Linked DNA regions of Homo sapiens: region 2 is linked to region 1. The links come from fine-mapping of genetic effects on gene expression. Tissue or cell type: whole blood. Region 1 holds a variant in brackets; the other region holds the start of a gene. All regions are shown on one strand. Distances are from middle to middle.

What was found. PIP is the estimated chance that this variant, and not a neighbour inherited with it, causes the effect.
Region 2: it holds the start of DECR1, and the variant in region 1 is fine-mapped to the expression of DECR1 in whole blood (TOPMed, PIP above 0.99).

The regions. Positions count from the first base shown.
Region 1 is chr8:90,089,393-90,092,244 of GRCh38, forward strand. No RefSeq gene overlaps it. Among named protein-coding and RNA genes, the nearest start is that of CALB1, 7.9 kb to the left of the region's middle. The variant G/A (reference allele first, on the strand shown) is at 1,364.
Region 2 is chr8:90,000,039-90,002,691 of GRCh38, forward strand. It overlaps DECR1 (2,4-dienoyl-CoA reductase 1), which reads left to right and starts at 1,439. Exons shown (of 10, transcript NM_001359.2): 1 at 1,439-1,523. The coding sequence starts at 1,455. RefSeq lists enhancers at 783-1,077, 1,926-2,065 and a silencer at 1,356-1,455.

The sequences.
Region 1 (2,852 bases):
TCCTCCAGCCCCAGGCATCCACTGATTCACTTCTGTTTCTATAAATTTTACTTTTCTGGACATTCTATATAAATGGAATCATCCATTGTGCAGTCTTTTGCATTTAGCTTCTAATGTTGTTAAGGTTTATCCACATTGTAACATGTATCAACATTTCCTTACTTTAAAAAAAAAATTTCCATAAGTTATTGGGGTACAGGTGGTAGTTGGTTACATGAGTAAGTTCTTTAGTGGTGATTCGTGAATTTTTGGTGCATCCATCACCCGAGCAGTAGACACTGCACCATATTTGTAGTTTTCTATCCCTCACCGCCCCACCTCACTCTTCCCCCTAAGTCCCTAAAGTCCATTGTATCATTCTTATGTCTTTACGTCCTCATAGCTTAGCTCCCACATATCAGTGAGAACATATGATGTTTGGTTTTCCATTCTGAGTTACTTCACTTAGAATAATAGTCTCCAATCTCATCCAAGTCACTGCAAATGCTGTTAATACATTCCTTTTTATGCCTGTGCACTATTCTATTGTATATCCCTTACATTTTTATTACTATTTATGTGCTCTATCTATACAATAGTATTCCATTTTATAGATACAGAATATTTTGTCTATTCATTTACCAGTTAGTAGACATTTGGATTGCTTCCTGTTATGCATTATTATAAATAATGCAGCTATGAACATTCACATACAAAACTGTGGGCAAATGTTCTAATTTATCCCGGGTAGGTTATCAGAAATAGAATTGTTAAACCATAAGATACATTTAGATTTAACTTTCAAAAAATTTTTCAAACTTTTTGCCAAAGTGGCTTTATGATTTATAATCCTTTCATGCACGTCCATGTGAAGAGACCACCAAACAGGCTTTGTGTGAGCAACATGGCTGTTTATTTCACCTGGGTGCAGGTGGGCTGAGTCCAAAAAGAGAGTCAGCGAAGGGAGATAGGGGTGGGGCCGTTTTATAGGATTTGGAAAGGAAATGGAAAATTACAGTCAAAGGGGGTTGTTCTCTGGTGGGCAGGGGCGGGGGTCACAAGGTGCTCAGTGGGGGAGACTCTGAGCCAGGACAAGGAAATTCACAGGGTTAATCACTCAGTTAAGGTGGGGCAGGAACAAATCACAATGGTGGAATGTCATCAGTTAAGGCGGGGCAGGGCCTTTTCACTTCTTTTGTGATTCTCCAGTTACTTCAGGCCATCTGGGTGTATACGTGCAAGTCACAGGGGATGTGATGGCTTGGCTTGGGCTCAGAGGCCTGACATTCCTGCCTTCTTATATTAATAAGAAAAATTAAACAAAATAGTGTTGAAGTGTTGGGGCGGCGAAAATTTTTGGGGGTGGTATGGAGAGAGAATGGGC[G/A]ATTTTTCTCAGGGCTGCTTCAAGCGGGATTAGGGGCAGTGTGGGAACATAGAGTGGGAGAGATTAAGCTGAAGGAAGATCTTGTGGTAAGGGGTGATATTGTGGGGTTGTTAGAAGGAACATTTGTCGTATAGAATGATTGGTGATGGCCTGGATACGGTTTTGTATGAATTAAAAAACTAAATGGAATAAGAGAAGGAGAAAAACAGGTATAAAAGGTCTAAGAATTGGGAGGACCTAGGACATCTGATTAGAGAGTGCCTAAGGAGATTCAGCATAGTCCTGCCAGCAAAGATTATTTATTTACTTCAAGAGTTTAGAGTGGCAGTTTGGGGATAGCACCAGGAGATATCAGCTGTGATGGCTTGGAGAAACAGTGTAAACCGGCAGTGTAAACAAGAGCAGGGCATGTAGTTCAGAATGGTGAATAGGAGTATGACTAGACAAAAGATAGTAGGGATGACAAGTTTTTTTGGGGCACAGTCTAAGTTGGTCTGGTGTCAAATGAGACTGGGGCCTAATAAAAAGGAGCGTCTGTCTATACAGGAGCTTAAATGGGCTGTACCTTGTAGCATTCTGAGGACAGGCCTGAATTCTGGGAAGTGAAAGTGATAAAAGTATTGTCCAGTCCTTTTTAAGTTGGTGGCTGAGCTTGGTGAGGTGTGTTTTTAAAAGACCTTTAGTCCGTTCTACTTTTCTTGAAGACGGAGGACCGTAAAGGATATAAAGGTTTCACTGAATACTAAGAGCTTGAAAAACTGCTTGGCTGATTTGACTAATAAAGGCTGGTCTGTTATCAGACTGTATAGAGGTAGGAAGGCTAAACTGAGGAATTATGTCTGACAGAAGGGAAGAAATGACTGTGGTGACCTTCTCAGACCCTGTAGGAAAGGCCTTTACTTATTCAGTGAAAGTGTCTATTTAGACTAAGAGGTATTTTAGTTTCCTGACTCAGGACATGTTGAGTAAAGCTAATTTGCCAGTCCTGGGTGGGGGCAAATCCTCGAGCTTGATGTGTAGGGAAGGGAGGGGGCCTGAATAATGCCTGAGGAGTAGTAGAATAGCAGATGGAACACTGAGAAGTTACTTCCTTGAGGATAGATTTCCACGATGGAAAGGAAATGAGAGGTTCTGAGAGGCGGGCTAGTGGCTTGTACTATAGCATAGCCTGCCTTTGCTGGTGTGTGGCGATTAGGCCTGGTGGAACTGCCATCAATAAATCAAGCATGATCAGGGTGAGGAACAAGAAAGAAGGAAATATGGGGAAATGGGGTGAATATCAGGTGGATCAGAGAGATAGTCATGGGGGTCAGGTGTGGCATCAGGAATAATGTGGGAGGCCAGATTGAAGTCCGGGGCAGGAACAATGGTAATTGTGGGACTTAAAGAGTGAGTACAGCTGAAGGAGCCGGGGAGCAGAAAGTATATGCGTCAGGTATGAGGAAGAAAATAGATTTTGGAAGTTATGAGAAATGTAGAGAGTGAGTTG
Region 2 (2,653 bases), 89 kb before region 1:
TCCTAAGCTGGTCTAAAAGTTATTTAAGAGGGCAAGTGTTCTGGGCTGAATTGTGTACTTCCCTCTTCTCCCAGCCAAATATATACATTGAACTCTTAACCCCCAGTATGTCAGAATGTGGCTATATTTGGAGATAGAGTCTTTAGGGAGGTAATTCCAGTTAAATTAGGTCATTGAGGGTGGGCCTTAATCCAACACGACTGGTGTCCTCATAAGAAGAGGCAATTTAGATATGGAAAGGTACACAGGAGGATCATGTAAAGACACAGGGAGAAGATGGTCCCACAGTGGCTCCACAAGAAACCAACTCTGCTGACTTGTGGCCTCCAGAATTGTGAGAAAACAAATTTCCATTTAAGCCACCCAATCTGTGGTAGTTTTGTTCCTGGACCAAACTGAGGGTCAGGCTGCTATTTCTTGCTGCCAATAATGAGATGTCGATGAACTGGGGATGAAGAAAGTTTTTATTTCTGTAACCAGTTACAGGCAGAAGGCCTGGAAATTATCACCAGACCAACTCAAAATTACAAAGTTTTTCAGAGTTTATATACCTTATAAGCTATATGTCTACATGTAAGTGTACATTCCTCTGAAGATATAAATGTTTCTTTATCAGCATTTGGAACATGCCAGGCAAATAGTAAACACTCAATATCATCTACCATCAGCCTCAGCCTGGGGCCTCACACCCATCTTCTTTTATCTAAAATTCTGAATTAGCTATGAATATTCTCATTTTACGAATGAGGAAAGAAATGTGATCTGAGCTAATGCCTTGTGTCAACAGGTATATTACACTAAGATGGAGAATGATATACTGAATCTGTGTTTGCCTTTAACGTGTGTTTAACTTCGAGAAAAAAGCCAAGGCTGGGCGGTCGCAGTCACGCTGCATCCGGCGACAGGGGGCGGTGTGTCCTGCGAAAAGTCAAAACGCCGGAAGCTGCCCTTAGTGTTTTTCAGCCTCTTGGTCTTAGGGAAAGTGAGGCCGTGTTTTACATCCAACATATTATTATTCTGATAATATGTGACTTGGCGCCACGCGCACTCTGCACTTAAACACGCACTTAAGGGATAAACACATACGACTGAAAAAGAGTTTCGCCCTTGATAGGCAGTGTATGGGGTGCGCAGCTGCAATCTGCAAACCCTTGCAGGGCGCGGGGTTTCGTACACCCGCTCAAGGACGCAAAGAACCTCCATTCTCTGCCATACAAAGCACTCCTGGCCCAGAGAGCAGGAAAGAGCATCAGCTAGGCCCAGCTAGGCGGCGCCCTCGGCCGGACTCTGAAGGTCAGGGCCGCTGGGCGTCCACGCCGCCTGGGTCCCAGTCCCCGTCCCATCCCCCGGCGGCCTAGGCAGCGTTTCCAGCCCCGAGAACTTTGTTCTTTTTGTCCCGCCCCCTGCGCCCAACCGCCTGCGCCGCCTTCCGGCCCGAGTTCTGGAGACTCAACATGAAGCTACCGGCCAGGGTTTTCTTTACTCTGGGGTCCCGGCTGCCCTGTGGCCTCGCTCCTCGGAGGGTAAGGCGGCCGGGGGCGCGGGGAGCGAGGACAGGGCGTCTCGACGCGCAAAGAGAGAGGACAGGGCGTCACGGGGGCTCGGGGAGCGAGGACAAGGCATCCTGGGGCGCAAAGAGAGAGGACAGGGCGTCCCGGGGGTTCGGGGAGCGAGGACAGGGCATCCCGAGGCGCAGAGAGAGAGAGGACAGGGCGTCCCGGGGCCTCGGGGAGCGAGGACAGGGTGTCCCGGGGCTCAAAGAGAGAGGACAGGGCGTTCTGGAGCGCTAAGAGAGCACAGAGCAACCCGGGGAGCGAGAGAGAGGACAGGACGTCTCGGGGCGCAAGAGAAAGGGCAGGAAGTCTTGGGGCACAAAGAGAGGACCCGGCGTCCCTGGGGCTCAGGGAGCTAGGACAGGGCGTTTTGGGGCGCAGAGAGAGAGGACCACCAGGTCCCGGAGCGAAGGGCAACGCCGGGAGTGAGCACCGGGGCCCGGGTCGTATTCCACTGTCAGATGAAGCCCTGATGTGTGTAGGGGAATAGGGAAGAGACGTGATTTTCGAAGTTTTCACAGTTCTGCAAGTTTCCAACTTGTGTGTAAATAGGTAGAAAGAGGTAGGGAAGGATACGGCGCCCGTCCACCCCTTAAGGAGTGAGAGGGGATCAGGCCGAGCGAGCACTGACCTTTGACGTCCTTTGTTGTGAGGAAAGTCCATCTATGTGTTAGTTATGGAATTAAACACTAATACAAACAAATTATCATAAAAATGAAACAAAAACAAAACCCCAGCTGTTTATAGACTCCCCTTCCCAGATGTATAGCTGGGAGAGGTCCGTCTCACACTGGCTTCCCCCTCTCTCTGGCCCACACTCCTGTCACCATCTCCATTGCACCCATAGTGGAAATAGCTAGGAAGTGAAAACAGCTAGGAAGAAGAAAGAGAAACAAAAACAAAAAGAAGCAATAATATCCAAGACAAGCCCTCCCCACATCTAAATTACAAAATTGTTATAAGTAAACTAAAAAGCACATTTTCTTTAGCCAGGTAGAAAAATTAATATGTCAACTGTGAAAAAACTTCTTTTGATTTGATAGAATAGACAGCCATGGTGTTGTTTTTCAAAAAATATGGGCAGCAGTAGTTCCAAATAG